Linked DNA regions of Homo sapiens. The protein of the gene in region 1 interacts with the protein of each later gene in a biochemical or structural test. Each region holds a gene or a part of one and is shown in the gene's direction. Other genes may lie near its edges. The genes, in order: PRKACA, PINK1 and MGMT.

What was found.
Region 2: of the proteins of PRKACA (region 1) and PINK1, one has a biochemical effect on the other in vitro, tested with the Homo sapiens proteins (one study listed by BioGRID).
Region 3: of the proteins of PRKACA (region 1) and MGMT, one has a biochemical effect on the other in vitro, tested with the Homo sapiens proteins (one study listed by BioGRID).

Annotation. Positions count from the first base shown.
Region 1 is NC_000019.10:14,097,096-14,100,822, reverse strand, and holds part of PRKACA (cAMP-dependent protein kinase catalytic subunit alpha), read left to right. Parts: intron 1-2,932; coding exon 2,933-3,059; intron 3,060-3,148; coding exon 3,149-3,244; intron 3,245-3,339; coding exon 3,340-3,462; intron 3,463-3,727.
Region 2 is NC_000001.11:20,643,458-20,646,957, forward strand, and holds part of PINK1 (serine/threonine-protein kinase PINK1, mitochondrial precursor), read left to right. Parts: intron 1-1,032; coding exon 1,033-1,215; intron 1,216-2,102; coding exon 2,103-2,266; intron 2,267-3,500. UniProt on the Homo sapiens protein: Serine/threonine-protein kinase which acts as a sensor of mitochondrial damage and protects against mitochondrial dysfunction during cellular stress.
Region 3 is NC_000010.11:129,470,054-129,473,780, forward strand, and holds part of MGMT (methylated-DNA--protein-cysteine methyltransferase), read left to right. Parts: intron 1-3,727. UniProt on the Homo sapiens protein: Involved in the cellular defense against the biological effects of O6-methylguanine (O6-MeG) and O4-methylthymine (O4-MeT) in DNA. Repairs the methylated nucleobase in DNA by stoichiometrically transferring the methyl group to a cysteine residue in the enzyme.

The DNA of each region.
Region 1 (3,727 bases):
AGCGGGCCACCCCCCATCACATCAGGCTGTCAGGGTGTCCACAGGTGGCAGTGCACGACCAAGCCCCCTGGGAATGCAGAGGAGTCCAGCATACTTCAACATGCAGGTGGTCTCCCAGACCCTGTGGGTTTCTGTTTCCCCTCTGCTGAGGAATATGTGATATTTCAACCACCACAAAACAAAACAGAGCAAACAGGGCAACTTAGGTGTCCAAACTGAAGTTGCTGCCAGGCACGGTGGTTCTCACCAGTAATCCCAGCACTTTGGGAGGCCAAGGTGGGCAGATCACCTGAGGTCAGGAGTTTGAGACCAGCCTGGCCAACATGGCAAAACCCTGTCTCCACTAAAAATACAAAACTGAGCTGGGCATGGTGGTGGGCACCTGTAATCCCAGCTACTTGGGAGGCTGAGGCAGGAGAATCACTTGAACCCAGGAGACAGAGGTTGCAGTGAGCCAAGATCACACCACTGTACTCCAGCCTGGGTGAGAGAGTGACATGCCGTCTCAAAAAAAAAAATTGAAGTTGTTGATTTTGTGCATTTTTTGAGCCCCAAAAGGTGGCATGCATCTGTAGTCCCACTAGTCCTGAGGCTGAGGTGAGAAGATCATTTGAGCTCAAGAATTTGAGACCAGCCTGGGCTGCATAGTGAGGTTTTGTCTCTTTTAAAAAAAAAAAATTGGCTGGGCGCAGTGGCTCGTGCCTGTAATCCTAGAACTTTGGGAGGCCGAGGCGGGCGGATCACGAGGTCAGGAGATCAAGACCATCCTGGTTAACATGGTGAAACCCCGTCTCTACTAAAAAAATACAAAAAAATTAGCCGGGTGTGATGGCGGGCGCCTATAGTCCCAGCTACTCGGGAGGCTGAGGCAGAATGGCGTGAACCCGGGAGGCGGAGTTTGCAGTGAGCCGAGATCGCGCCACTGCACTTCCAGCCTGGGTGACAGAGCGAGACTCCGTCTCAAAAAAATAAAATAAAAATTATACTATTATTTTATTTTATATAGGTGGACAGTTTTATATGTGTAGATTTTAATATATATTTTTATACATAAAATAAATCTATATACAGAAATTTGTAAGTTTAAGATACAGGCTGGGTACTGTGGCTCATGCCCTATAATCCCACTTGGGGAGGCCAAGGTGGGCAGATTGCTAGAGCCCAGGAATTTGAGACCAGCCTTACATAGCAAGACCCCATCTCTACAAAAAAATACAAAAAAAAAAAAAAAAAGTCAGGTGTGGTGGCACATTCCTGTAGTCCCAGCTCCTGGGGAGGCTGAGGTGGGAAGATCACCTGAGTCTGGGAGGTCAAGACTGCATGAGCCCACCTTCATCCCTAGGATGCAAGGCTGGTTCAACATATGCAAAAAAAAAAAAAGACTGCATAAGCCGTGATCACGCTGCTGCAGTCCAGACTGGGTTGTAACCCAGTCAGACCCTGCTGAAAGAAAAAAAAAATTTTTAACTTATAAATTTGTCTTATTAACTTATAAGTTTACATACGTAGTTTTATTTGATTTTATTTTTTGAGACAGAGTTTCACTCTTGTCACCCAGGCTGGAGTGCAGTGGCACGATCTCGGCTCCATGCAAACTCTGCCTCCCGGGTTCAAGTGATTCTCTTGTCTCAGCCTCCCAAGTAGCTGGGACTACAGGTGCATGCCCCCTTGCCTGGCTAATTTTTGTATTTTTAGTAGAGATGGGGTTTCACCATGTTGGCCAGGCTGGTCTCGAACTCCTGACCTCAGGTGATCCGCCCCCCCCGCCTTGGCCTCTCAAGATGCTGGGATTACAGGCATGGGCCACCGCGCTGGCCTTGTAGTTGTATTTTAGATAGATAACTATAGATTCACTTTACATACAACAAAATGCACAGTTCTTCAATGTTCCATGCTACAAGTTTTGACAGTTGTATATAGCTACCTAACCTCCACCCAAAACAGTATATGGAACTTTTCTATCACCTAAGAAAATTCCCTTGAATCCCTTTTTTTTTTTTTTTTTTTTCCAATAACATACAGAGGTGGAGGCCGGGTGCCATGGCTCACGCCTGTAATCCCAGCACTTTGGGAGGCCGAGGCGGGCGAATCACAAGGTCAGGAGTTCGAGACCAGCCTGACCAACATGGTGAAACCCCGTCTCTACTAAAAATATAAAAATTAGCCGGGCGTGGTGGTGCACACCTGTAATCCCAGCTACTCAGGAGGCTGAGGCAAGAGAATCACTTGTTTCCAGGAGGCAAAGGTTGCAGTGAGCCGAGATTATGCCATTGCACTCCAGCCTGGGCAAGAGAGCGAGACTGTCTTAAAAAAAATAAATTAATCAAAAAAAAATATATATATATATATACACACACACACACATATCTACATACATACAGAGGTGAGGTCTTGCCTATATTGCCCAGGCTGGTCTCGAACTCCTGGGCTCAAGCGATCTTCCCACCTCGACCCCCCAAAATGCTGGGATTACAGGGGTGAGCCACCGCACCGGGCCGAATCCCTCTCTTGACACGTCACCTCCCCACCAAAGGCAGTTGTCCTTTCTGACTTCAAACACCGTGCCTTTGTTTTGTCTGGGCGTGGACATGATATAAATGGAATCATTCATGTTCTTTTGTGTCTTCTTTTGCTTAACATAATCAGTTTGAAATGCAGCCACATTGTTGAGTGGATGCATGGGCTGTCCTGTTGGCGGTGGTGGTGGTGAGTGGAATTCCATTGTATGACTATAGCTCAGTCTGTGATTCCATTTTCCTGTGGATGGACCCACAGGCTGTTTCCCATGTCGGGCTATCTAAGAATCAGGTGCCTTGCGTTTCTGACGGCTGGACTGGAGGTGTCTTCCTCTGGGGTAGGCTCTGCAGGGCCACCTGCTGGACCATTTTGGGGCATGACCACTGACGTTCACCTCCCCATTTGTCCCCATCAGTGAGCCCCATGCCCGTTTCTACGCGGCCCAGATCGTCCTGACCTTTGAGTATCTGCACTCGCTGGATCTCATCTACAGGGACCTGAAGCCGGAGAATCTGCTCATTGACCAGCAGGGCTACATTCAGGTGCCCACCAGGCCGGGCGAGGGGCAGCCCTGGGGAAGCCGTGGCCTGGACCCTTCCTCCCTGCCAACTGCCTGTTCTTGTGCCCACAGGTGACAGACTTCGGTTTCGCCAAGCGCGTGAAGGGCCGCACTTGGACCTTGTGCGGCACCCCTGAGTACCTGGCCCCTGAGATTATCCTGAGCAAAGTAGGAGCCTCCCCAGCCCTCCCCTTCCCCTGAGGCCGGCTCTGCTCTCCTGCTCTCGCCTCCTCCTCACCCTGTGCCCCCCCATCTTGCTCCAGGGCTACAACAAGGCCGTGGACTGGTGGGCCCTGGGGGTTCTTATCTATGAAATGGCCGCTGGCTACCCGCCCTTCTTCGCAGACCAGCCCATCCAGATCTATGAGAAGATCGTCTCTGGGAAGGTGAGGTCCGGATGTGGGGACACAGCCCTGGAAGAAACAGACCGTTCCCTGCTCACCCATCCTATTCCCTGGGGAGCCCTGCTTGTTGTCAGAATAATCTAGAAGTTCCTTAAGTCAGGCCAGGTGGTGAAGCTGGACGCGCCGGCCACACTGAGGCCAACACCTCAAGCCCCCTTGCTGTCCAGCCCCAACCCCGCGGTTCCAGAATCCCATGGGCTTCCAAAATCCCGAGCCTCACGGGAACATCTTGGCCACAGAACACAAA
Region 2 (3,500 bases), on another chromosome or scaffold:
TCTATGCCAACTACTGTACTAGACTTGGAATAATGGAGAAAATTCAGGCACAGTCCTTGCTCTTAGGGAGCTCACATGATTACTCATTGATGAATATCTCTCTCCCCTGATAGACTGCAAATCCATGAGGACAGGGACTCTGTCTTGTTCTGTGCCATAGTTCCACAGCATTCCAGCATGATGTCTGGTACTCAGCATGCAAACAGTGCGTATTGGTTGAATGAATAATAGTACAGCTAATAGCAGCTGAGAGCTTCCTCTGTGCTAGACACGATTCTAGGTGCCTTCCACACTTTGACAACCTTATGCAGCGTGTTAACACTGCATTCCCCTTGCACCCTGGAGATTGAGCCCAGAGAAGATAAGGACAGAGGGGACACATTCCAAGATAGATCCCCCAGTGGATGCCTGAAGCCACAGATAGTAACAAACCCTATATATACTGTGTTTTTTCCTATACACACATACCTATGGTAAAGTTTAATTTATAAATTAGGCACAGTAAAAAATTAAAGATAACTAATAAAATAGAATAATTATGACAATATACTGTAATAAAAGTTATGTGAATGTGGTCTCTCTCTCTCTCCTCTCTCTAAATATCTTCTTGTACTCACCTATTCTCAAACTGTAGATAACTGAAATTGCAGAAAGCAAAACTGTGGATAAGGTTGGGGCTACTGCAACTCAGCCAAGGACTTACAGTGGCAGACCTGGAATGCAAACCCAGGCAGTCTGATACCAGGGTTTCTCCACCTGTGTTCTGCCACATGGGATGGATAGGATGGATGGGTGTACGGATGGACGGACGGACAGACGGATGGACAAATGGATTGAAGGATGGGTAGGGGAGTCATCAGATGTGTTCTCCAACACCATGTACAGTACCTGGCACATAGCAAATCTATGATAAACATTTGATAGTAAGTGAATAATGAATGTCAGTGCCAGTGTTGGTGTGGCCTTAGGTTATTCTTTCCAGGTGTTGTATCTGATGCTGGCCTCATATGTTTGTCTCACTTGGCTGACTAGAAAATCCAAGAGAGGTCCCAAGCAACTAGCCCCTCACCCCAACATCATCCGGGTTCTCCGCGCCTTCACCTCTTCCGTGCCGCTGCTGCCAGGGGCCCTGGTCGACTACCCTGATGTGCTGCCCTCACGCCTCCACCCTGAAGGCCTGGGCCATGGCCGGACGCTGTTCCTCGTTATGAAGAAGTAAGTGACAGCAGCGCGGCAGGGCCTGGAGCTGATACATCTCCCAAGGGGAGCTGGTTCCTGCCCTCCATGTGCACCTTGATCAGGGGGTTTTGGAGAACAGGGTCATCACCCTTCCGGAGAAGAAAGCCATGCAAAGGGAACATATCTGCCCTGGAGAGCATTTTCCCTGTAGGACGATTTTTCATGGAAACAAACTCTCATCTTCATCCAGAACATACTTGTCACCTAGTCCTTTTGGTCCATTTGACTGTTAACCTTTTCTGTGGCTGGACTTATCTGTTTTTAACATAAAAACCGTTCTCCTTCCTCACCCTCTGTATCCCCTAACTTTGCTATAGTGGGTATTTTATTTTAAGGAAATAATTATCTGCACCATTACTTTGAATATAGGGAGCCCCAACTCTTACTTCCTAATTTGAGGATGGTGAGTGGGAGGGAACAGAAAGGATGCTGGGGAAAAGTGGGAATCAAAGTGCTCCTGGAAGGGGAAGAGGAACGGCCTAACCCTAACAGTGATTAAGGTTATTAGGAGGCCGGGAATGGTGGCTGACGCCTGTAATCCCAGCACTTTGGAAGGCGGAGGTGGGTAGATCACTTGAGGTCAGGAGTTTGAGACCAGCCTGGCCAACATGATGAAACCCTGTATCTACTAAACATACAAAAATTAGCCTGGTGTGGTGGCGGGCACCTATAATCCCAGCTACTCGGGAGGCTGAGGTAGGAGAATTGCTTGAACCTGGAAGGTGGAGGTTGCAGTGAGCCAAGATCGTGCTACTGCACTCCAGCTTGGCGACAGAGTGAGACTCCATCTCAAAAAAAAAAAAAAAAACGTATTGGGAGTCGTCGATGTGTGGTAGCCAGAGGCCCTCTCCCCTCTCCGCCAGCTATCCCTGTACCCTGCGCCAGTACCTTTGTGTGAACACACCCAGCCCCCGCCTCGCCGCCATGATGCTGCTGCAGCTGCTGGAAGGCGTGGACCATCTGGTTCAACAGGGCATCGCGCACAGAGACCTGAAATCCGACAACATCCTTGTGGAGCTGGACCCAGGTAGGAACCTGCTGCACCATCAGAGCTCTCCAGGGGCACTAGAGGGTGGGTCAGGAGCATTTAGGACTGACTCTTCAGGTCCTCTCTGGTTTTGTGTTCTAAGTCATGTCTTTATTTAGCTCCGCACACAAGAGGTTAGCAATCTCTCCCTTAGAACGGGGTTTTTTTTTCTCTCTTTGCAGAGAGACAGCACTTCCCAAGTTCCTTTCTCTAGCCCACTTAAAGAACAAGGACCTCAGTGCTGCAAGTTTTCCTAGGTAAATAAAGAGGCCCGGCACAGTGGCTGACACCTGTAATCCCAACACTTTGGGAGGCTTGCTTGAGGATTGCTTGAGGCCAGCAGTTTGAGACCAGCCTGGGAAACAGAGTGAGATCCCTTCTCTACAAAAAAAAAATATGTTTTAAATTAGCCGGAAAAAAAGTTAGCCAGGCATGGTGGCATGCACCTGTAGCCCCAGCTACTTGGGAGGCTGAGGTCGGAGGATCACTTGAGCCTAGGAGTTAAGAGTCTGCAATGAGCTATGAATGTGCCACTGTACTCCAGCCTGGGCAGCAGAGTGAGATCCTATCTCAAAAAAATAATAAAAAATAATAAAGTAAAAGAGAAGTAGACTTTAGCTCATTATAAAAAATAACTTTCGGCCGGGGGTAGTGGCTCACGCCTGTAATCCCAGCACTTTGAGAGGCTGAGGCGGGCAGATCATGAGGTCAAGAGATCGAGACCATCCTGGCCAACATGGTGAAACCCCATCTCTACTAAAAATACAAAAATTAGCTGGGCATGGTGGCGGGCGCCTGTAATCTCAGCTACTTGGGAAGCTGAGGCAGGAGAATTGCTTGAACCCGGGAGGCGGAGGTTGTAGTGAGCCGAGATTGTGCCACTGCATTCCAGCCTGGCGACAGAGTGAGAGTCCATCTCAAAATAAATTAATTAATTAATTAAATTTTTCAAACAATGAAAGCTGTCCAAATGTAAGCCCAGTTGCCTCTGGAAATGAGTTGCCTACCACTGGAAGCATTCAAGTAGAAGCTGAATGGCCACTTGCCTAGGAAAATTGTAAGGAGATTCATACATCTGATAAATTTTTGAACTAGAAGATTTAAAATAATTGACTAGAGGAACTGGCTTTTATTATTTCTTTATTTATTTACTTATTTATTTATTTATTTATTTGAGACAGAATCTTGCTTTGTTGCCCAGGCTGGAGTGCAGTGGCGCCATCTCAGCTCACTG
Region 3 (3,727 bases), on another chromosome or scaffold:
AGAGAAGACACATAAACCATCACCTGACTGTGGGGTGAGAGTGGTCTTTATATAGACACTCATGATGCACAAGCCAGCCCTTCGCCCCACTCTTGTTTTGAAGTGAAAGGATTTATATGGGAGGGAGGAGGTTTGAGCTGTGCAGGAGGGTCCTTGGTTGGCATGAGGATTTTGTGAACCTACGCTGTTAGCTCTGCAGGCCTGTCTTGGACATAGGTAAGTAGAAGTTGGAGACCTTGTGTTGTGGACCAAATGTTGCAAGATGTGTGTTCTGTGGCTTTTCATTAACTGCTGCATATCTGCTGGTTGGTGGACATAGTCTAGTTTTCTTTTGACTTAAAAAAATTAACAGTACAGCTTATATCGGAGGGCTGCATAGTTTGGGGGAAACTAATGAATATAGTATGGAATGTAATGAATGACTGACTTCTTCATAGAGCTATTGAAGTGATTTATGAAGAGGAAGAAATCATTTTTGTGACTTTGTTGATCTTTGAAGTATTAGAGTGGCTTTGGCAGGTGTGGATCACCCGGAAAGGAATCAAACACTGAGTCCTGCCAAGGTGCTCGGTCCCGGCAGCAAAGCCAGTCCTCAGCAGCCTGCGCTCCCGAAGCTCCTCCAGCTAAGTAACTGAATAGGCCGCCCTGGGAGCTGCCCATGCGGATGCTCTGAATGGTGAAACTTGGTTTTGACACCACAAGTTGTTTTCAGTTAAATCAGTGGCTCAGCAGCAGAGCAGGGTTCTCCAAGGAGGCCTCGTGTCCCCTTCACCCCACCTGGAGGTAGCTGTTCTAAAACCAGTAAAAAATTCTACAAAAACATTTTCTTAGGGTTGTTAAATTAGTCATAGTGTGTGTAACCATGAAAGGAATGGTGAGAGTGCAATAAATGCCTGGTGTGTTCACTCTCCTACTCCTAAAAGTTTCTTGGTAGAATAATTTCCTACCTGTGATGCTTGCGAAGTCAGCAGAGGCTCCCACCCAGCCCTGCCGCCCATTCCCAGAAGTCTGGGCTGGGGGACACCGAATGGATAGTCCACCAGCGGCGTGGCTTGTGAAAGGAGGTACTTGTTAAATCTATGTGTTTTTATTATAGACATCGTTCTGCCAGTCGCAATAATGTGTTTATGGACATTTTTCTGCAAGCACAGCGCGGGTGGCAGTTTTTACTGACAAATTGAGTCATATGCATAGAGGTTTAGAAAGCGCTTGCCTTATTGACGGATCAGGCAATTCTGGCACGGGATGTTCAGAGATATTTAGGTGGGTGAAGAGAGTGAATGAATCTCAGGGCAGAGAAGGAGATGGGGCATTATATGTTGAAATGCAATAAATAATCGCTAGTTATTTATCATTTGTTTTTAAACTTTTAGCTACATTGTACTTCCCAGTCAAGAGGACTCCGGTGGGCAGCCGGGGATATCATGTTCAGGTGTCTCTCCTGCTTGTGTGGGGTAAGAGCCACTACTGGAATGCGATTCCAGCAAGGCCTGACGAGTCACAGCCCCTTGAACCTGTTGCTCTCCGTAAAGTGGGATCTTCACAGGCAACAGTGGAGGAGCGTTTGAGGGTGACCTGGGCCCTCTGCATCAGAATTACTGTGGGTGCTGGCTAGAGAGGTCTCTCGATTGCAGGGCCCCATGGGAGACCTACAGGACCAGAACCTGGGGATGCCAGGGGATTCTGGCAGACCCTAATGCTTGAGCACCTCTAGGGAAGGCCTTAGGATCCTCTGGGAAGTAGCACTCTCCAGCCCAGGCAAGATCCGAGTCCCCCTTCCAGAAGTATCCATCGGCAGTTGGCATTGCTGCAGGTTTTCTGTGCATATGGGTCTGAGTACGGTTTTGTAACTCCTGAGAGACGTGAATCTCTTCAAATTGCAAACCCAACATGTTATTATTGCTTTTGAGTTTTCAGTTTTGTGGTTATGACAAGATGCAGATGTTACCAAAACTTTGGCGTCAGTTTTACAAACACACGCGAAGCACGGGCAACCCGTATCATATTTCACCCCTTCTTTCCTTTTGAGAGGGTTGTCTTGTTTTTAATCCCCCTCTGGGTCAAGGCATTTTCCTGGTCTCAGGTGAGGGTGCACTTTCAGAGGCACAGCTGAATACATTTTGTGGGACTGAATTGAGCTTTTCTACAGGAAGTGCCAGGCCGTGTGTGGGAGTGATGCTGTTTCCTAGCTGGGTCCCCCTGGGCAACTCTTAGCCCTCCAGGCACCTCCTCATCCATTGGGTGGGGACGATTATGCTTATTCGGTCTACCCGGGTAAGTATAGGCACACGAGACAGTAAATACATATTTTTTTAAAAGTAAAATTTCTATCCACTACATGGATAGAAATTTTAATTTGGAGCTGAGTCTCACGGAAGGATGAAACGAGAAGACGGCGAAGAACCATTTCGAGCCCTCGTTTTCCCCCCAGTCCAATCCGAATCTGTATTTTGCAGATCTGCACACACCCAAGCCCTCACTGGGGGCATGTGCACGGTGGTCAGAAGTGCACCTTCTGGGAACAGATGGGCTTCCGTTTGGACCTGCTTTACAAGTTACAATCCTGTGCCCTTGAGCAGAGTTACTTAACCTTCCAAGGCCAGATTTCTCCAAAAGCAGGGCCAGGGACAGTTCCCATCCAGAAGGAGGCCTGGCGCTGGGGAGGCCTGAATGAAGGCGGTTGGTGTTTGCGGATGCAGAGTCGCTCTGTTTTGGTGGAGGCAGGACTGGAGGTCGGGATCACTTGGCCACATTTGCCACCTCTGGTGCGTCTGAGGTCACAGTGCATTGTCTGTGTGCAGCATAAGGTAGTTCCCTATTCATTTACTAGGTCCCTGAAGTCCTTTTGTCTGTAAAGAGGCTACTGGCTCTGCCACCTGCTTCTGTCTTTTCACAGTAGACATTCTCGACGTGGCAGCATTCTAAAGGTTCAGGTGTGCCACATCGGCCTAGAGTGGGCAGGTGGGCTTCATGTGTGCTCCTAGGGGCACTTGGCAGTTGCTGATAGCCCGAGACACTGGGAGCCTTGACATTATTCATCTGTTATATTGAAAGAACTTCCCAAAGGACGGACACAGGATCTGACACGATGGCAGTGGCCAGGAACCAGCAGTGACACCAGCATGTGACAGTATTTTCCCATGTGTGACGGCCGTTTAGATCACAGCAGTGAGGGGTAACGCAGGTCCGCTGGGTAAACTTGGTCAAAAATGGGAAGTCTGCAGCATTTCGTGTGTTTGTGGAAATGGGCCTTATTTTTATTTGGGGTGTCTCCTTAATCTCCTGTCATGGTTCAGCTCACCCTGGTGGTTATTCTGGGCGTGCTGCGCTTGTTGCCTTGTACAGACCAACTTAGGAAAGGCTCACCACCACCCCATGAAGGAGAAGGCGCTGTGAGTGTCTTTATTTTGCATATGAGGAACCCGGGCCTCGGAGAGTTTGAGTGACTTGCACAGGTCTCCTGGGATAGAGGTAGAGTTTTGTTTTCAACCCAGATTTATTTGATAACCAAGTGCAGGCTCATAACCACTTGTGCCAGGCTGGCTTTGCAACGATGAGCCTGAGAAGCTGTTAGAAGTCCTTTAAGGGGCAAGACAGGGTGTAAACAGACACAGACCTGTTTATGTAGCTAATGTTTTCTGAACATCAATGTGACCAAGTGTTGTCTTTAGCATTGTGGGAAAAGCAATTCGCCCAAGTGTATTCCTGCTTGAAGGCGTTGAGCCGT